Homo sapiens: one gene and its partners. The protein of the gene in region 3 interacts with the protein of the main gene of each other region in a biochemical or structural test. Each region holds a gene or a part of one and is shown on either strand. Other genes may lie near its edges.

Region 1 (7,067 bases), on a different chromosome or scaffold from region 3:
GAAATCACATTGTGTTAGTTTCCTAAAGCCATTGTAACAAATTACCACAACTGGGTGGCTTAAAACATCAGAAATTTAGCTTCTCTCAGTTCTTGAGGCTCTAAGTCCCAGATTAAAGAACTTGGCACGGCCATGTTATGAAGTAAATAATACTACAGTGGATATGTTCATGTATGTCCCTTCGTAAATTGTATGAGGACTTTTTGTACACAGGAGTGGAATCACTGGGTCGTAGACATACACTTTATTTGACTAAGTAATGACAGCTTGCTCTCACAGCAGGGGAGGATACTTCCTTGCCTCTTCCAGTTTCCGGTGGCCTCATGTTCTTTGGCTTCTGGCATAATGACTGCAATCTCTGCCTCCATCTTCAGAGGGCTGCCTTCCTTCTGTCTTTGTCTCTGTTTTCTTATTTTTATTTTTATTTTTTTTGAGACTGAGTCTCACTCTGTCGCTCAGGCTGGAGTGCAATGGCACAATCTTGGCTCACTGCAACCTCCACTTCCGGGTTCAAACAATTCTCTTGCCTCAGCCTCCCGAGTAGCTGAGATTAAAGGTATGTGCCACCATCCCCAGCTAATGTTTGTATTTTTAGTAAAGACGGGGTTTCAACATGCTGGCCAGGGTGGTCTCAAACTCCTGACCTCAAGTGATCCGCCCCCCTCCCAAAGTGCTGGGATTACAGGTGTGAGCCACCTGGCCCGGGCGTCTCCCTTCCCTCCCTCCCCCTCCCCTCCCCCTCTCCCCCCTCCCCTCCCTTCCCCTTCCCCTTTTCCCTTCCCCCTTCCCCTCCCCTCCCCTCCCCTTCCCCTCCCTTCCCTTCTCTTCCGTTCCCTTTCTTTTGAGACAGAGTTTTGTTCTTGTCGCCCAGGCTCAAGTGCAATGACTATATCTCGGCTCACTGCAAACTCCACCTTCCAGGTTCAAGCAATTCTCCTGCCTCAGCCTCCCAAGTAGCTGGGATTACAGGCACCCACCACCATGCCCAGCTAATTTTTGTATTTTTAGTAGAGACGGGGTTTTACCGTGTTGGCCAGGCTGATCTCGAACTGGCCAGGCTGGTCAAGGCGATCCTCTCGTCTTGACCTCCCAAAGTGTTGGGAGGTGTGAGGCACCGAACCCAGCCTGTTTTCTTATAACAGCAATTATATTGAAGAGGGTCTATCCTGAATTGAGTATGACCTCATCCTACTTGATTACATCTACAAAGACCCCTCTCTAATTAAGGTCACATTCACAAGTACTGGAGGTTATAATTTCTACCTGTCTTTTTGAGGAACACAATTCAACCCACAACAAAGAATAGCAGGAACTATTTTTAAAATGTAGTTTTTAGAGCTGAGCATGGTGGTGAGCACCTGTAGTCCCAGCTACTCAGGAGGCTGAGGCAGGAGGATTGCTTGAGCCCTGGAGTTTAAGACAAGCCTGAGAAACATAGTAAGAACCCCTCTCTAAAAAAAATTTTTTTAATTAGCCAGGCATAGTGTCATGCACCTGCAGTTCCAGCACTTTGGGAGGCCAAGGTGGGAGAATTGCTTGAGGCTAGGAGTTCAAGACCAGCCTGAGCAACATAGCAAGACCCTGCCTCCACCAAAAAAATGTTTTTTTACTTAGCTGGGCATGTAGCCTCTGTAATCCTAGCTACTTAGGAGACTGAAGCAGGAGGATCACTTGAGCCCAGGCATTTGAGGTTATAGCGAGCTATGACCGTGCCACTGCACCATAGCCTGGGCAGCAGAGTGAGGTGCTGTCTCTTAGAAAAAAAAGTTTTTCATAAAAAAAAAGAAAACAATATAATATATACAATAACATGCAGGTAGGTAACTTTAAAATACATTTACCCCAAAAATTATGTTTCAGAATTTATAAAATTCAGCTAAAGGAGTTCTTAGAGGAAAATTTATAGTTTAATAGTTTAAATGCCTTTACTTAAAACAAAAAAAGGTTAAAATCATAAGAAACAAAAAGAAAGAAAAGTAAAGTAAACCTAAAGTGAGCAGAAGAAAGGAAGTGATGAAGATAACAATGAAAATCAGTGAAACAAACAAATGGAAAAACAATTGTAGTAATTAATAAAACCATGAGCTGGTTCTTTGAAAAGACAGGTAAAATTAATAAACATCTAGCTGGACTAGTGAAAAAAGGAGAGGACACAAATTACCAAAATCAGAAATGAAAGGACACAACAAAGAAAACAACAGAGTGAGAGAAAATATTTGCAAACCATATATCCAATAAGGGGTTACTATCCTATTCTAAATATGTGAAGAAAGCAAACAACTCATAGCAAAATCAGATCACACGACTAAAAAGGGGGCAAAGGGCACCAGGTGCACTGGTTTACACCTGTAATCCCAGTGCTTTGGAAGGCTGAGACAGGAGAATTGCTTGAGGCCAGGAGTTGTGAAAAGCCTGGACAACATAGAAAGACCTTGTCTCTACAAAAAAATTTTAGATTAGCCAGGTGTGGTGACATATGCTTGTAGTCCCAGCTACCTGGGAAGCTGAGGTGGGAGGATCACTTGAGCCCAGGAGTTAGAGGTTGCAGTGAGCCATGATTGCAGCACTGCAGTACAGTCTGGGCAACAGCTTGATAGCTTGAGACCCTGACTCTTTAAAAAAAAAATCATTTATCAAAAGATGACATACAAATGATCAACAGGTTCATAAAAATGCTCAATATTGGCTGGGCACAGTGGCTCACACCTGTAATCCCAGCACTTTGGGAGGCTGAGGTGAGCAGATCACCTGAGGTTGGGAGTTCGAGACCAGCCTGACCAACATGGAGAAACCCTGTCTCTACTAAAAATTCCCCAGAGGCTGGGGAATAAGGGGCTGGGGGAGATAATGGGGAGATGAAGATGTTGGTCTCAGGGTACAAAGTTAACAGTTAAACAGGAGGAATACAATTTTGAGATTTATTGCACAGCATAGTGACTATAGTTAATAATAATTTATTGTATATTTCAAAATTTCTAAGAGAGTAAGTTGAAAATATCTCGCCACAAAAAGAATGATAAGTGGGCTAGGTGCAGTGGCTCATACCTGTAATCCTAGCACTTTGGGAGGCTGAGGCAAGAGGATCACTTGAGGCGAGGAGTTCAAGACCAGCCTGGGCAACATAGCAAGACCCTGTCGCTACAAAAACTTTTTTTTTTTTTTTTGAGACGGAGCCTCGCTCTGTCGCCCAGGCTGGAGTGCAGTGGGGCGATCTCGGCTCACTGCAGGCTCCGTCCCCCGGGGTTCACGCCATTCTCCTACCTCAGCCTCCCGAGTAGCTGGGACTACAGGCGCCCGCCACCACGCCCGGCTAATTTTTTGTATTTTTAGTAGAGACAGGGTTTCGCCATGTTGCCCAGGCTGGTCTCGAACTCCTGACCTCGTGATCAGCCCGCCTCGGCGTCCCAAAGTGGTGGGATTACAGGCCTGAGCCACCACGCCCGGCCCCAGGGGACATTCTAGAGGGGACTTCGCCCCCCAAGCCGCACTTCTCCATTTCCCTGCGGTCGTCGCTAACCGAAGGCGCCATCCGGTGACGACTGGATGTGCGCGGCGGTGGTGAGAGGCCGCGAGAACCACCAGGTCCACCGCTGCCTCGGCCCGGGCGGAATCTGGGAAGGTCTCTGACAACCATTCATCCTCAGATTTTCCCAATTGTGCATGGGTGGGCGGGCCCCGCATCCTAATGGGCACTGGGCATGTGAAGTGTGAACCACCCGGGCCTAACTAGCCGCTGAAGGCCTGACGAAACCGCCAGGCCCACCAGGGGGCAGCAGAGATCCGACGGCCGCGGACCGAGGGAAGCTGGCGGGAAGTAGGAGGCAGAGGGCGCGCAGGGAAGCGGCAGGGCGAGCGGCTCAGAACGTAAAAGCCAGCACCGCGCCTCCAGGTTGCTTTACGGCTGCCGCAGAAGGCTTTGCGGCTCTTTTCCCCTCCGACTTGATTTACGGTTCCTTCTCTGGTCTGTGTTTTTTTTTTTCCCCCTCCGGCGCTGGGCGTGGGTTCGGACCTTCTTCCCAGAGACGCTCGCGCACCCTTCCCATTCTCCTCTGCGCGGCCTCCATCTAAGATCTCTTCCCCTTGTCCATAGCCTAGATCGAGCTCCCTGTGTGCACCGCGCGCTGCCCGAGGCGCGTAAGTGGGGGAGGAGAGCGGCTTCCCCCGGGGTGGTTCTAGCCGTGGGTGTGGAGCGTGGGAAGGCTCAGCTTCCGGGTCGAGAACCTGGGGCTGCGGTGGACCTGATCCTGAGGTCTCAGCGTAGAGATGCTGAGTCCAGAGGCCTGTTCTAGTTCACCAGTGCAGTGAGGGGCTCAGTATCCGGGCCTCCCGAGAGGTGGGTAGGAAGGCGGGGTACAGGAAACTTGGCACCAACGCGCCGGGACCCCACCGCGGTGCGGACAGCCAGGTGTCCGTGGTGGCGCTTCCTTGGAGATGCTGCCTGCAGACAGGCGTGGGGAATCTGAAGTTTGTGTTAATAGCTAAACGAAGTTGAGTTGCAGGGAGCGGGGGACGCTGGGAAGAAATGATTGATTTAAAAGGAATTTGACGCCGGGCATGGTGGCGGCATGCCCCCATGTTCCCTGGAGGTCAAGCCTGCAGTGAGCCGAGATCGCACCCGTACCACGACACTCCGTCCCGGGCGACAGAGCGAGACCCTGTCACGGGGGAAAAAATAAAAATAAAAATTTGACGCTCACTTTAGCTGAGTATTGAGCCTTGTTATAACATTGAGATAGAGGTCTGGCGCGGCGTCTCACACCTGTAATCCCAGAACTTTGGAAGGCCGATGCGGGAGGATCGCTTGAGGCCAGGAGTTCTACGCCAGCCTGGCTAACATAGCGAAACCCCGTCTCTACTAAAAATACAAAACTAGGCAGGCCTGGTGGCGGGCGCCTGTAATCCCCGCTACTCGGGAGGCGGAGGCATGAGAATCGCTTGAACCCAGTAGGCAGGTGTGCCGGTAAGCCGACATCGCACCACTGCACTCCAGCCTGGGGGACAGAGCGAGAATCCATCCAAAAAAAAAAAAGTTATAATTCACGTACAATTAAATTCACTCCCTTTTTTAAAAAAAAGTGGAGACATAGTCTCGCTCTGTTGCCCAGGCTGGAGTACAGTGGCGCCGTCTCGGCTCACTGCAACGTCCGCCTCCTGGGTTCAAGCGATTCTTTGCTTCAGCCTCTCAAGTAGCTGGAATTACAGGCGCATACCACCACACCCAGCTACTTTGTATTTTTCACCATGTTGGTTAGGCTGGTCTCGAACTCCTCGCCCTTCCAAAGTTCAGGGATTACAGGTGTGAGCCACCACACCCAGTCTAAATTCACCCTTTTAAAGTGTGCAATTCAGTGGTTTTAATATATTCACAAGGTTGTGCAATCACCACTATTATCTAATTCCAGAACATTTTTATCATCCCTAAAAGAAACCTTAAAACCATTAGCAGACACCCATTATTTCCTCCTACTCCCAGCAGCACTAATCTATGAATTTACCCATTCTCAGTACTGTATTATACAATATTTGTTCTTTTGTGTTTGGTTTATTTCACTTCATGATTCAAAGTCCATCTATGTTGTATGTAGCATGTATCAACTTCATTTTTTAAATAACTGAATTATTTATTGTGTGGATATACCACATTTTGTTTCTCCATTTTTGATGGATACTGGTGATTTTCTAGGCTTTCTAGGTCTAGTCCTCCACAGAACTCGCAGTCTGAGGCACAGACATTTAAAACTTAAGTTTTTGGAAACTAGCATTTAACTCTTGGGTTGGGTCAGGTAATTCAGTGGCCTCAGGTCTGGTATCGTTTAGGGCAGTTTTTTTTTTGTTTTTTTTTTTTTTTTGAGATGAAGTTTCACTCTTGTTGCCCAGGGTGGAGTGCAATGGCGTATCTGGGCTCACTGCAACCTCACCTCCTGGGTTCAAGCGCTTCTCCTATCTCAGCCTCCTCGGTAACTGGGCTTACAGGCGCATGCCACTATGCCCGGCTAATTTTTGGTATTTTTAGTAGAGACAGGGTTTCACCATGTTGGCCATGCTGGTCTCGAACTCCTGACCTCAGGTGATCCACCCATCTCGGCCTCCCAAAGTGCTGGGATTACAGGTGTGAGCCACCGCGCCTGGGTGGGAGTTTTGTTTTTTTGTTTGTCTGTTGTTTTTTGGGGGGACAGAGTTTCTCTCAGCCTCCTCGGTAACTGGGCTTACAGGCGCATGCCACTATGCCAGGCTAATTTTTGGTATTTTTAGTAGAGACAGGGTTTCACCGTGTTGGCAATGCTGGTCTCAAACTCCTGACCTCAGGTGATCCACCCGCCTCGGCCTCCCAAAGTGCTGGGATTACAGGTGTGAGCCACCACACCTGGGCGGGAGTTTTGTTTTTTTGTTTGTCTGTTGTTTTTTTGGGGGGACAGAGTTTCGCTCTTGTTGCCCAGGCTGGACTGCAGTGGCGAGATCTTGACTCACTGCCACTTCTGCCTCCTGGATTCAAGCGATTCTCCTGCCTCAGCCTCCCGAGTAGCTGGGATTACAGGTGTGCACCACCACACCCGGCTAATTTTGTATTTTTAGTAGAGAAGGGGTTTCTCCATGTTGGTTACGCTGGTCTCGAACTCCCTACCTCAGGTGATCCTCCCGCCTTGGCCTCCCAAAGTGTTGGGATTACAGGCGTGAGCCACTGCGCCCCTCTGGGAGTGTTTTTTAAAGTGTTCTATTCTCAGTTCACCACTTACCAGGCCGTTAATTATCGTGGTATCAAGCAGAGAAATGTTTGTGTGCTGGTCTTCTCAGGGAGGCAGAAACCGTCAGAGATTGCTGTTGTGTAATGTACACCAAAACGTGTTATCTTGTAGTATAAACGGTGTAGTTGGAGATGAGTGTATGAAAAATGTAACTGAGCTAGCTGTGGGAGAGACTAGTTGTGAAAAATTTTGAGTCACCCACTGTATGCTTTCCCAGCTATGTTCAAATAAGGTGACACTCTGCCTTCCTGTTTCAGCTCTAAAACTGTTCATAAGTGTTATTTTGGCTGTATACGTAGTGCCATGTTTTTTTGTATTTTTGTG
Region 2 (7,001 bases), on a different chromosome or scaffold from region 3:
CCAAGTGGGTATAAGGACATAAAGAAAATGCTACAGATTTTGAAGGTCTGAACATTACTGTATTTACATTAAAAAGAGTTTTCCATGTAACTTTAAAGGGTACATTGTTACATCCTTTGAAAGAGAAGTTAAATGACTAGCTTATTAACACATTTAACTTAGATGACTGACCGATTTCAGTTTTACAGACACCACTTAGAGAATGATATAACGGAAGAGCACTGAGAGAGAAGTTAGGACACCTGTGTTCTGGCTTTGGCTCTATTATTATCACTATGTTCGCGACTTTAGACTGTGGTTCACAATCTTAAGTGTGCATTAGAAACCCCTGGAGGCCTTATTTAAACAGACTGCCACATGCTACCCTAGTTTCTGATTCAGCAGAAATGGGATGCAGCCCGAGAATTTGCATGTCTAACAAGCTTGCAGGTGATGCTGTTGCTGCTAAATGATTAGAAACCATATTTCAAGAACCACTGCCTAGGGTAAATAATTTAACCTCTTTATGTTCCAGTTTCCTTGTTTGTACAATGTGATTGGGCTATAAAGTTTCTAGGTTCTCTTATAACTCTAACCTGTGATCTAACATATTCTGAATTTTAAATTTTTCCTAGACTGTGAGATAGAGCACAGACCTTTAAAAATGGTTTAATACATCTAACTTTATAAAACTAATTTAGGTAAGCAAAGACTATTCAAAAATTAGTACACTTTCTGTTCTATGGCATCTCAGAAATTAATGACCAGATTATTAAAAGGGCAACCAATTTAGCACTATAATTCTATTAGCACAATTAGCGATAGCTAAACTGCCTTATAACTTCACCCAACTAAATTCAGAAGAGCTCCTCTAATTCCAAACTTTGTAGCTAATTTTTCATTATAAAATCTAATTTTTATATTTTATAAACAACTACCACTTATAGGAAAAAACACTCAATAAAAGAAAGCTCTGGAGAAATGTTTTTATTCTTGGAATCAGTTCCTATGTTATGGCTGTTTCCAAAGCTTCTTAGGTTTATGCTTTCTAATATGAAACTTCCAATGACAGACTATTGAAACTAATAAAGTGGTGTTACTTAAAAAAAAAAACAGTCCTCACCTTTTTCTATAAAGCACGGTAAACTGTGCAGCAGCATCAGACGTCCATGCAAATGACTGGCATTCTCTTGAACAGGAAATTTGAGTGGCACTCTCAGTTCTAAGCACTGACTTCCTACTTTAAATTTATATACAAATTCTCTCTCTCTATTGCAGAATCTTTCTCTGTTTTTCTTCATATTCTTTGACAGGATTTCTACAGAACTAACAAAAAAGCAGTAGGTTATAAGTCCATAAAGAAATTATGTTTCATTATTGCTGTCCCATTTCTAAGAAAACATTCCACCATTCAAGAGATTTTGTCTATGAGCCAATTATTCTAGTTTTTCCCAAGTGTTTATCCCTGTACTTCCATCTTCATGATGAAAACAAAGTGCTTCTTTAAAAAAAAAAAAAAAGACACTTTGTTTTAAACTTGATTTAAGAAAAAAAATTATGGCCATAAAGTACTTTATATTCCAAGGCAGGGTTCTCAATAATAGGGAAGGACCATGGAGAGAAGAGCAGAGAGAATTCTTAGGGAGAGTTCATGGGTGGGGAAATACAAAGCTTAAGAAACCGTTGGTAAAAAGAAAGTCAAAGAAGCAGATCAGGGACCAAGGAGTGATCCTGGAGAACTTAGAGGTTGTGGTCATGAGATCCGACTGGGGGAAGGGGAGTAAGAAAGTGTTAGAAAGATTTCCATGTGGGAAGAAGATACACAGAAAAGAGAGAGTACAGGACCTCCACTTCCGGCCCACACCCCAAAGGCAAACTAGACACTACTAAGGAAGAAGAAAATCTAGTTAAAGGCAGTAAGAATCAACATCAATTAAAGATTTATTTATTCATCAGCCTTGTAACTGGACTTCCTATGGCTAGGCTTTCTCCCATCAAATCAGTTCTTACATTATTTTCTACACTGAAGTTATAGTAATCTTCCTTTTTAAAAAAGGAATATACTTATCTGATCATGTTGTTCATCCGCTTAAAAACTTTCTATGACATTCCATTGCTCTCAGGATAAAATGCAAACTCTTTATCCCAGTTTACAACACCCCTGCTTATATTTCCACTCTTCTCTCAGAAACTGCACCTCTCCTTCCTAATACACAAATTCACAAATTTTATTTTCCAGCCATTCTGAACTTCTGTCAACACCAAACTTCTCCTTCCATGCCGAATCTTTTTGAATGCCTTTTCCTTTGCCTAGAGCACTCTTACTGATCTTAATTTCATTGGATAACAATTGCTAATTCTTCAGGTCTCAGTTAAGCCTCTAGGAAGACTTATCCAACTCCCTAAAACTGGATTGGGTCCCGACAGGCTCTCATATTAGCCTAGACTTATTTGAATCATGGCACTTATCACGCTCTATTTCTTACTCTTGGCTAGAAAACAGTCTTCTTGAAGTGGAAGGAATACTGTCTTGTATTCCATGTATTAGGCAGGATGTTGCGAATGGCAAGAACTAATAAATAATTGTTGGATTGTATGGCGTTTTTATTTTATGGTGCTCACTGGAAAAATAAAGAACAAAAAATTATTCATACGGTTATTTAAAAAGATATCACCTGAAATATAAAAAAAACTCAAAGGACTTTTGTACATGTCGTGGGGCGGGGCTAAGTTGAATTATCCAGACTATATTTTCAAATCTGTATGTAGGCTATACACAAAAATCTTCGTCTATTTCACCATAATGCAAAGAGATAGGGTATTTGTTTTACTCAGAAAGAATTAAAATTAAACGTAAAGCAATACAAATTTTTATAATGTTAGAAAACTACCAAAACTACATAAAGGTATATTCTATGATGTAGAAATTTCATTCCTAAGTATATATCCAAATACACACACACGCATATGTTCGCTAAAGTACACCCAGAAGAATGCTCATATAAGTTTTATTTATAATACCCCAAACTGGAAACAACCAAAATGCGTATTAGTAGGAGAATAGTAAACTTGTTTATTTTATGAGATAAATACTACACAGCAATAAAAAAGAATCAACCACTGATAAATGCAAAAATATGAATGAATCAGGAATGTTGAAAAAAAAAAGAGAAGGCAGACACAAAAGCTCTGGTTCAACATTTAGACTTGTGTTTCAAGAAACTGATAACTTTAGTTCTTTCTCCTCTCGCTCTTTTTTTAGACTAATGGTCTATCCTGAAGCCTGGGTTCAGTTTTAGCAACCGTGAAATCCAGGAAGGTTTCCCATAAGAAAATGGGATGGAAGGTCTGGACCGAACACACACAGCCAACAGAGCGGAGGCTCTGAGGCTCACATTAATCAGGGAAAAGGAAGACAGACGGTCGAGCTGAGAAACTTCAGCCGGGTGAGGGGACTAATCCCTCTGTAACGGTTGTCAGTCTGAAAGGGCATCCTCACTCGGTTCTGGGCTCACCTCGTCTAGTTCCGAAGTCCTGGGCAGTCCGCTCACTCGAGCTGTCAGCGCGTCCTGCACTGGGAAACCAGCTGACTTGCCGACATACTTTTTCCACACCGCGGATCCGCGAACGTAGATTCGCCACATCCTTTTCTATTTCCTGGCATCTTGTAGAAAATTTCTCAGTCCAAGTGCCCCTATGTCCCAACCTGTTTCAATTTAACAATTTGAAAGGTGCAATAAGGTGTATTTCTATTGTTATTCTGTATTTCAGAGACAGGGCAAATCCGCCGTTGTGACGAAAGTGCAGGGACAAAGCACAAACTCGGCTCTGGTGGACCGGATACGGAAAAGCGGTGCCTTGGGGAGGGCGGGAGCAAATTCGCTTTCCCCACAGCGCGTGCGCCGCCGCAAGCATGGCTGGTGATGATTGGACGACTGGTAACAGGGGGCGGAGGGCTCCGAAGTCTGGTTTTGGGCGGGAATTGAAACCGCCGCTGAAGCCAACAAGAATTTGAGAACTGTAAATACCAAGCCTTGAAAGGGACCATGGTGCGGCCTGTGAGGTGGGTAGTTCCTGACATTCGTCGGGGGTGGGAGGAAAACTAAGGGAAAAGACATGAGACTAAGGGGAAAGGATCGAGTAAGACCGGAGGGCAGCGATGGTGGGGTTAGGATGGACGGTTATCAAGAACCCAGTCTCCAGTGAGAGCCACCCGTTGCTCAGAAGTATCCTAGCATCGTAGCTTTTTCCTTCTCTTTGCCTCCCTTCACAACCGTCGCCGTTTCTTTTACCAAGACCTTGTTAGCGTTTGAACAGCGCTTTACATTTCACCGAGCGCCCAATTATGTGTTATTTTATTTGTTTATCACTGTAGTTATTTGATATAGAAAGAGTAAGCATTCCTGTTGTATTGATTTAACATTTCTACGTATAGAGGGTAAGTTATCTGAGTCATACAGCCCAGTAAGTGGCAGGGCAATACTCAAACCTAAGTCATCTCACTCAAGATCCTCTGTGCTTTCCATCGTGGTATTAGAAACGATTCTTCTATTTACACAGTTGAGTGCCATGGAAGCCTATAGTTAGCCATTCATTTAATAAAGTTATTGAATATATTCACTTCTTTAGTGTACGAGGTGCTGGAGGTTACATTCCAGTGGGAGGTGAGGTTAGGGGGCCGAAAATAAGCCTCGAAATATGAGAGTGCGAAAGAGGAAAGCACTACTTTAAATATAGTAGTTAATATGTGACTCTGAGGCGATAATGCATGCACTGAGTCATGAATCAGGGTAGAGGGAATAGGAGCCAAGGCCCCATACTTGACCATATTTTAGGGACAGTCTAATGCTATAGGATTAACAAGCAGTGGGGAGAATCGTAGGGGGATTAGGCCAGAGAAATAGGCAGGTGCCAGAACAGATAGGGTCTTGTAAGTCTTAGAAAGGAGTTTAGGTTTTATTTTAAGTCAATGGGAAGTCAGTGGAGGGTTTTAAGTAGGGGAGAGGAATCTAAGTTTGCTTTTATAAAGGTCACTGGCTGTTGGTGGAGAATAAATGATGGATAGGGTGACCAGAACGGGAGCAGGAAAATCAGGTATTATATCATTGGAGAGCGGTTTGGGATAGGGTATTATTAGTGGGCATGGAATGGAACAGATGAATTTGGGATGTATTTCGGAGGCACTGTGGACAGAACTTGCTGATGAAGTAGATGTACAGGTAAGGGAAAGAAAGAATCAGAGATGACTCCACAATAGTTTTGGTCTGAGCTACAGGATGGATGATCTTTGTATTAAGATAGGGAAGACTAGGAAAAGGAAGGTTAGGAGGTGTGAGGGATCAAGATTTCTGTTTCGAACATGCTGAATTTGAAATGGGTTTTAAGCATCCAGGCAGTGGAGTCATAATCCCTTTGTAAGGAACAGCAGTTGTTAAAGTATGGTCTACAGACCTCTGTGGGTCCCTGGAAACTTCTCTAGAGGTCTATGAGGTCAAAACTCCTTTCATAACAATACTAAGATATGATTTGCCTTTTTCGCTGCTTTGTCATTTGCACTGCAGTGACCCCGATAAAACTGCTGGCACCTCAGAACAATTAAGGCAGTGGCACTAAATTGTACTACTAGTCTTTGCAATGTTTACTGCCATACTCTTAAAAGTAAAAAAAAAAAAAAAAATCATTTCAGTTAAGAATATGCTTGATGAAGTAGTGGAAATTATTATATTCATCATAGCTTAACCCTTAAGTATACTAATTAAAAATAGGCTATTGATTTTATTTTACTATTATTCAAGTTCAGAATTTATAAAGGGGTTTTCACATTTTATTCAGCTCTAACTTCTTTAACTCTGAAGAGTAAGAGAGTAATATGAGTGCACTTTTTAATAGTTTGCGTGAGGAAACAGGAAGTACACATAAAGCACTTCTGTATACTGATGCGTGATAGTTATCTCAAGGAAAAGCACTTGTGAGATTGTCTGAGTTGTGAGCTGAGCTTACTACCTCTTTTTCATAGAACATTCTTTTTACTTGAAAGAACAACCAGCTGACAAATTAGGTTATTCACATTTAGCCATTTGACAAAAATATAGAAATAAAAACTAGAAAAACATTTTATTTAGTGCCTAGAGGAGGGAGGAAAAAATTATTTTTTTCACTTTGAATATCATTTTCTTCTAATGCCCTCTGAAGTAGTACAAGTTGAGCATCCCAAATTTGAAATGCTCCAAAATTTGAAACTTTTGCAGTACCTACATGGCACTCAAAGGAAATGTTCATTGGAGCACTTCAGATTTTAGATTTTCAGATTTGGGATGCTCAGCTGGTAAGTATATAATGCAGATATTCCAAAATCTGAAAAAATCCAAAATTCAAAACATTTCTGGTTCCAAGCATTTCAGATAAGGGATACTCATCTCAGGTGGTAGGAACAAGGTCACTCACCATTTTTAAGTGTCCGTTGCATAAAAATGTTATTTGGTATGGTGGAGAGATTGAAAAGAAAGTAGCTTTTAGTGTCAAGAAATTTATAATCTAGTAAGGAAGATAGAATGCACACACAAAACAGAAGAACACGTACAACGGGAACTTACAAATGCCCAACAGCAATTAAACAGTATAGCAATTATAAATGTTAATTATGTAGATTATTCTTTGTAAGTTACCTGAATTTTTTTCCTTTATCATATAATTGAAAAGCCAACAATACCCAGGTATATCAGGTATAGTTGTAACTATTTTAGCTAATGATAAATCCCCGCGGTAAAATGCAAATCATGTTTTAGAGTTAAATATTCTTACTTGAACCCAAACACATTTTCATTTATTGAAACACATTTCATTTAACACATTTTTATTTATTTCGTTTATTCATTATTTATTAATAAATGAATAATATTAAATAAATAAATAATATTCATTAATAGCCTTAAGTAATAGTGGTGAGAAATTGACATTTGTGTTAATGAAAAAATTCTGTTTTGGTCATAGACATAAGAAACCAGTCAATTACTCACAGTTTG
Region 3 (6,937 bases):
AAAAAAAAAGTTCATCTCATACAAGGAACAAATAGAACAGTGGTAACCAGAGACTGAGGAGAATGCAGCTGTTGCAGGGGGCGGCAGGAAGGAGAGAGGTTGGTCAACAGGCACAAAGTTTCAGTTAGATAGGAGGAATAAGTTCTAGGGTTCTATTTCACAGTAGGGTGACTACAGTAAACACTAATGTAATGTATACTTCAAAATAGCCAGAAGCGAGTATTTTGAATGTTCTCATCACAAAGAGAAATGACAAGTGTTTAAGTGAACTGATGGATATGCTGATTACCCTGATTTGATCATTCATTATACAATGTATATATGTATTGAAATATCATCTTGGGCCAGGTGGAGTGGCTCACGCCTGTAATCCCAGCACTTTGGGAGGCCAAGGCGGGTGGATCACCAGGTCAGGAGATCGAGACCATCCTGGCTAACATGGTGAAACCCTGTCTCTACTAAAAAATACAAAAAATTAGCTGGGCGTGGTGGCAGGCTGAGACAGGAGAATGGCGTGAACCCAGGAGGCGGAGCTTGCAGTGAGCCAAGATCGCGCCACTGCACTCCAGCCTGGGCGACAGAGTGAGACTCCGTCTCAAAAAAAAAAAAAAAAAAAAAGAAATATCATCTTGTATCTCATAAATATGTACAATCGTCTGTCAAAAACAAAGTAACACTTATTATTTTCACAACCTTGGGACAGAAAAAGATTTCTTGAAACTGGATGCATAACGCACTAGCCAAAAAGGAAAAGACTGAAAACTGAACTACATTTAAATTCAGCACTTCTACTGGGCACTGTGGCTCACGTCTGCAATCCCAGCACTTTGGGAGGCCAAGGCGGGCAGATCACCTAAGTTCAGGAGTTCAAGACCAGCCTGACCAACATGGAGAAATCCTGTCTCTATTAAAGAAAAATACAAAATTAGCTGGGCGTGGTGGCACATGCCTGTAATCCCAGCTACTCGGGAGGCTGAGGCAGGAGAATCGCTTGAACCCGGGAGGCGGAGGTTGCGGTGAGCCAAGATTGTGCCATTGCACTCCAGCCTGGGCAACAAGAGCCAAACTCTGTCTCAAAAGGAAAAATAAATAAATAAATAAATAATAAAAAAATAAATTCAGCACTTCTATTCATCAAAGGACACCACTAAGAGAGTGACAAGTCAAACCACAGTAGAGAAAACATTTAGCACAAACATAACTGAGGGCTGATAACCAGTATATAAAGAACTTCACATCAGTAAGAAAAAGATAATAGAAAAATAGGCAAGAGATTTGAACAAGCACATCACAGAAGATATCAAAATGGGCAAAAACATATGAACAGATGTCCAACATCATTATTAATCAGGAAAATTAAAATCACATTAAGACATTACTGTGTAACCAGCAGAATAGTTAAAATCAAAAAGGCTGAAAAATATCGTGTTGGCAAGCATGTGAAACAACGAAACACTCAACACTCCTGATGTATTTTTATATAAAATTCAAAAACAAGCAACATTAGTTCATCTCATTAGAAACCAGTATAGCAGTTACCACTGTAAAAAGGGGAAAATATTAAATACTACACAGGAAGGCTTCTGAGGACCATTCTATTAAGTGGTGATTACATAGGTGTATATTCATTTTGTCTTGCTCTATCGCCCAGGTTGGAGTGCAGTGGCCTGATCACAGCTCACTGCAGCTTATACCTCCCAGGCTAGATCCTCCCTTCTCAGCCTCCTGAATAGCTGGGCCTACAGGTGCACGCCACCATGCCTAGCTAATTTTTCCTATTTGTAGAGATGCGGGTCTCACTATCTTGACCAGGCTGTTCTCGAACTCTTGGGCTCAATCGTCCTCCCGCCTCCACTTCCCAAAGTGCTGGGACTACAGACGTGAGACACGACGCCCGGCCAGTATATTTTGTAATAATTCACGGAGTTGTATACAGTTGTGAATGTGAATTTTTCTACATGTATATTACATTGCGCTTTAGAAGTTAAAAACAAACAAACAAACAAAAAAACAGGGGCCAGGCGCTGTGGCTCACGGCTGTAATCCCAGCACTTTGGGAGGCAGAGGCGGGTGGATAACCTGAGGTCAGAAGTTCGAGACCAGCCTGACCAACATGGTGAAACCCCGTCTCTACTAAAAATACAAAAATCAGCCTGGCGGCGTGGTGGTGGGGGCCTGTAATCCCAGCTCCTCGGGAGGCTGAGGTAGGAGAATCGCTTGAATCCGGGAGGCGGAGGTTGCAGTGAGCCGAGATCGCGCCACTACACTCCAGCCTGGGCGGAAGAGCGAGACTCCATCTCAAAAAAAAAGTTTTAAGAAAACCAAACCTCACTTCAGATCATTCTCTAGGCATCATGTGAATGGTTTTCCGCATTAGATGATGAAAACACTGTTTTGGCAATCGGAGATTGGTACTTTCTAAGCACGGTGTAATGGAAAGACAGATCAGGAATCCGGAAGCCCTGGCTGTGATATTAAACAGCTGTGGCTACACCGCTCTGATCTCGGACTTCTCGCTCGAACCCATAAAATAGGTGTTGCCTATAAAGGCTCTAATGTTTCTCCCCTAGTTCTAAAGACTGAGGTCCACTTGTGTTTTCGCCCCAGCAGCTGAGGGTCGGTCGGGCGCGGACACGCCCTGCCACGTCCGGGTTTCACACTGCGCGCGGAGGCCCCAACTGCCGCTGAGCACTGGACCGGCCAGGACGCAGGTGGGCGAGGACGAGCCGCGGCTCTGGAGGGCCCAGCCTGCGCCTCACACACTCACCTCGGTCCGCAGCGCTCCTCTCTCCAGCAGGCCCCGCGCTCCGACTTCACCCCGCGGGCGTGGCACGCGCCCGACCCGCACGGCCCCCAACGCCCCTGGCTTACGCTCCACTTCTCTACTCGCTTGCCCCAGCCTTCTGCGCACAACCCAGATGAGTTGCAGTTCCCAGCTGCACGCCTCGGGAAGCGCCGCACTCTCCTTAGGGCTCGGTCTCTGGCCGCTGCGCGCGGTCCGCCAGCGGCTTTCAGAATTCCCGCCAAACCCTCTCGCCCAGGGTCACGCCCGCGTCGACGTAACGTATCCCCGCCTCCCGGATCCGCCTTCTCCCCGCTTCCGCCCTGCGCGCTAACCCAAGACGGGAGCTCGAGAGCTTGATCCTGCGCGAGTTTACAGACTGCCCTCTTCCCTTTTTGCGTAAGGACTAATTCAAACTTTATGCCGGGGGCGGTGGCTCACGCGTGTAGTCCCAGCTGCTCGGGAGGCCGAGGCGAGAGTATCGTCTGAGCCTAGGAGTTCGAGGCTAACCACGGCAACGCCCCTACTCCTACCCCAGTCCCTCGCGGGTGGGGCGAGGGATTTCAGGGGGCGGTGGGGGAAGACTTAACCGAGTTGCCGTCTTCTGTTTACCAGATCGAAGACCACGACTCCCAAGAGGTAATGCGTCGGCCCGGGACTACATCTCCCGGCATGCATCGCCGGCGGGTCCGCGAGTTCTCACCATCGCAGCTGGACTATTAGCGGGGGCCCTAGCGCTCTTGTGGTTTGTTTCGGCAGTATCTGAATGTCAGCTTTTGGCACTTCTGGTCGCTCTGAGCCTCCTACTCGCATTCCTGGAGCAAGGTGCTTTCCAGGCCTCATGGAGGTGGAGGAGCTGAGGAAGCTCGAGAAGATGGATAGAAGTGGGAAATGGAGCTAGCGTACGGGAGAGGGAAATGGCTGGAATATTCGTCAATCTGTGGTGCTTTACTGGAGATTTGCAGGAGTTCAGAGGAAGGGGGCATTGAATTTCATAACCTAAACCGTATCGTGGTTTACCAGAAAGTTTTGACCCGTGATTCCGGTTTTAAAGGCTGAGTAGGGCCGGGCGCGGTGGTTCACGCCAGTAATCCCAGCAGTTTAGGAGGCCAAGGCAGGCGGATCACCTGAGGTCAGGGGTTGGAGATAAACCTGGCCAACGTGGTGAAACCTCGTCTTTAGTAAAAAATACAAAAATTAGCCAGGTTTTGTGGCACATGCCTGTAATCCTAGCTACTCGAAAGGCTGAGGCATGAGAATCGCTTGAACTCAGGAGGAGGTTGCAGCCAACCGAGATCTCGCCGCTGTACTCCAGCCTGGGCGACAGAGCGAGACTGTGTCAAAACAACACCACAAGCTAGCTGAGTAGGGATTCTTGGGCGAAGTGGAAGACATTATAAGCAAATAGGGTAGTATGGGCATGGAAACGAACTACATGATTAAAGATTAGTATTATCTGGCGAGGGAGGAAAAGTGCCAGAGCAAGTGCCGAAACTGGAAGGTTACATTTAGTTCAGGATATGAAGATCATATAAGGCCTGCACGGTGGCTCACACCTGTAATCCCAGCACTTTGGGAAGCCAAGGTGGGGGAGGATCGCTTGAGCTCAGGAGTTGGAGACCAGCCTGGGCAACATAGTGGGACCCCATATCTCAAAAAAAAAAAAAAAAAAAATAAGCTGGGCGTGGTGGCTTGTGCCTGTGGTCTCAGCTATCCCGGAGGCTGAGGTGGGAGGACTGCTTGAGCTCAGGACGTCAAGGCTGCAGTGAGCTATGATGGGCCACTGCACTCCAGCCTGGGCTACAGAGTGAGACCTTGTCTCAAAAGACAAGCGACAACAACAAAACATGTAAGGAGAGGCCAGGCGCGGTGGCTCAAGCCTGTAATCCCAGAACTTTGGGAGGCCAAGGTGGGCGGATCACGAGGTCAGGAGTTCAAGACCAGCCTGGCCAAGATGGCAAAACCCCATCTCTACTAAAACTACAAAAATTAGCCGGGCGTGGTGGTGCATGCCTGTAATCCCAGCTCTTTGGGAGGCTGAGGCAGAGAAGTGCTTGAACCCGGGAGGTGGAGGTTGCAGTGAGCGAGATCACGCCACTGCACTCCAGCCTGGGCAACAGAGCAAGACTCCGTCTCAAAAAAAAAAAAAAAGGTAAGGAGCTTTGGTCTCTAGGTACTGAAGAAATCATTGAAGTTTTTAAGAAGACAAGTCATTTGGTTAGATCTATTTTCCCTCCACTTACCAATTTATTTTTATTTTTATTTATTTATTTATTTATTTATTTTAGATGGAGTCTTGCTCTGTTGCCCAGGCTGGAGTGCAGGGACGTGGTATCAGCTCACTGCAACCCCACCTCCCAGATTCAAGCGAGTCTTCCTGCCTCAGCCTCCCAAGTAACTGGGATTACAGGCGCCTGCCACCACGCCCAGCTAATTTTTTGTATTTTTAGTAGAGACAGGGTTTCACCATGTTGGCCAGGCTGGTCTCGAACTCCTGACCTCAGGTGATCCACCTACCGTGGCCTCCCAAAGTGCTGGGATTACAGGTGTGAACCACCGCACCCGGCCTTATTTTTTTATTTTTGAGACAGCATCTCGCTCTGTTCAAGTTGGCCTTGAACTCCTGGCCTCAAGTGATCCTCCCACCTTGGCCTCCCAAAGTGTTGGAATTACAGGTGTGAACCATTGCAATGGCCTTATTACTACTTTATATTTGTGGAGTGCTTTAAAGTTGACAAAGTTTTTAGTTAATCCTCACACTATTACCTTGTGGCGTTGAAGAACAGATTTCAGGAGCGTGAAAGTGAAGACACCAAAAAGGAAGTTCTTGCAATATTTCAACAAAGAGATGAAGATTTGGATTAGATTCCAGTTCTACCTTTTTGGCACCAGGGAGCTGTTCTGTGAAAGACAATTTTCCACAGGGCTCGGGGGGTGGGCATGAGGCAGAGGATGGTTTCGGAATGAAACTGTTGCACCTCAAGATCATCAATTAGATTTCCATAAGGAGTGTGCAATCTAGATTCCTCACAGGTGCAGTTCAAAATAGGTTTTGAGTTCCTGTGAGAATCTAATGCTCTCCTTGATCTGACAGGAGGCAGAGCTCAGGCAGTAATGCTTGCTTGCTAGCTGCTCACCTGCTGTGCAGCCCAGTTCCTAATAGGCGACAGGTCTGTGTTGGGGCGTTGGGGTCCTCTGAATTAGAGGAATGACAGAGAGAACAGACTCAGGCAGCTTTCTGGATGTAGAAACAACCTAACTTAGTGATTATAGATACTACCTGTGATAATAGTGAACTTTCTTCCATATCAAAGTTACACACCTTTGCCTCCGGTTCTTCCCACACCCTTAGAGCATCTGCAAACCTACAGCCCTCCTCCTAGCTGACTGTAGTCACATGACTTTTACCTTTCTGGCCACCAGTTGTACCAGCAGTGTTCATCTGGCCCCAAATTGGCCAATCATTTTCCTGCTCCTGGAAAATTAGACTTGGCTTTATATTCAAGTCTGACCTCAGGAATTTATGGGGCAAAGTACACAGATAGATGTGTGTGAATGTCCAATCAGAGAAAGCACATCTGCAGAAAGATTAAGAAATTGATGTCGGGTGTGGTGGCTCAAGCCTGTAATCCCAGCACTTTCGGAGGCTGAGGCAGGCGCATCACCTGAGGTCAGGAGTTCGAGACCAGCCTGACCAACATGGTGAAACCCCATCTCTACTAAAAATACAAACATTAGCCTCCAGCTACGCAGGAGGCCAAGGCAGGAGAATCGCATGAAACTGGGAGGCAGAGGTTGCAGTGAGCTGAGATCGTGCCACTGCACTCCAGCCTGGATGACAGAGCAAGACTCTGTCTCAAAAAAAAAAAAAAAAAGAAAAAGAAAAAGAAATTGAGATACTAAGGAGAGAGTCAAAGATAAATAAACCATTTGAATTCTGACTCCTTTCCAGATCGCCTTTCCAGTTTCTCAGAAGCCTAGCAGTACTTACTCCTCCTGCTCTTGGGTTCTTTTTTACTTTTTTTTTTTTTTTAAAAAAAAAACCTTGAACTCTTAAGGATTAATGCTCTTGAGTTATGAGATATCCCTACATTCCAATAACTCTACCTTCTATTTTTATTGATTAAACTAGTTTGAGTAGTTTCTGTTCCTTTC

The links.
Region 1: the proteins of RAD51 (region 3) and RAD52 form a complex in vitro, tested with the Homo sapiens proteins (6 studies listed by BioGRID).
Region 2: the proteins of RAD51 (region 3) and RAD51AP1 form a complex in vitro, tested with the Homo sapiens proteins (6 studies listed by BioGRID and IntAct).

The regions. Positions count from the first base shown.
Region 1 is NC_000012.12:946,669-953,735, reverse strand, and holds the start of RAD52 (DNA repair protein RAD52 homolog), read left to right. Parts: upstream 1-4,041; 5' UTR 4,042-4,134; exon of another isoform or gene 4,135-4,333; intron 4,334-7,067. UniProt on the Homo sapiens protein: Involved in double-stranded break repair. Plays a central role in genetic recombination and DNA repair by promoting the annealing of complementary single-stranded DNA and by stimulation of the RAD51 recombinase.
Region 2 is NC_000012.12:4,534,915-4,541,915, forward strand, and holds the start of RAD51AP1 (RAD51-associated protein 1), read left to right. Parts: upstream 1-3,975; 5' UTR 3,976-4,025; coding exon 4,026-4,042; intron 4,043-6,969; coding exon 6,970-7,001. Other genes in the region: FERRY3 (ferry endosomal RAB5 effector complex subunit 3), read right to left, coding at 1,103-1,280. UniProt on the Homo sapiens protein: Structure-specific DNA-binding protein involved in DNA repair by promoting RAD51-mediated homologous recombination.
Region 3 is NC_000015.10:40,691,256-40,698,192, reverse strand, and holds the start of RAD51 (DNA repair protein RAD51 homolog 1), read right to left. Parts: upstream 3,020-6,937; 5' UTR 2,768-3,019; intron 2,662-2,767; exon of another isoform or gene 2,567-2,661; intron 2,560-2,566; exon of another isoform or gene 2,328-2,559; intron 1-2,327.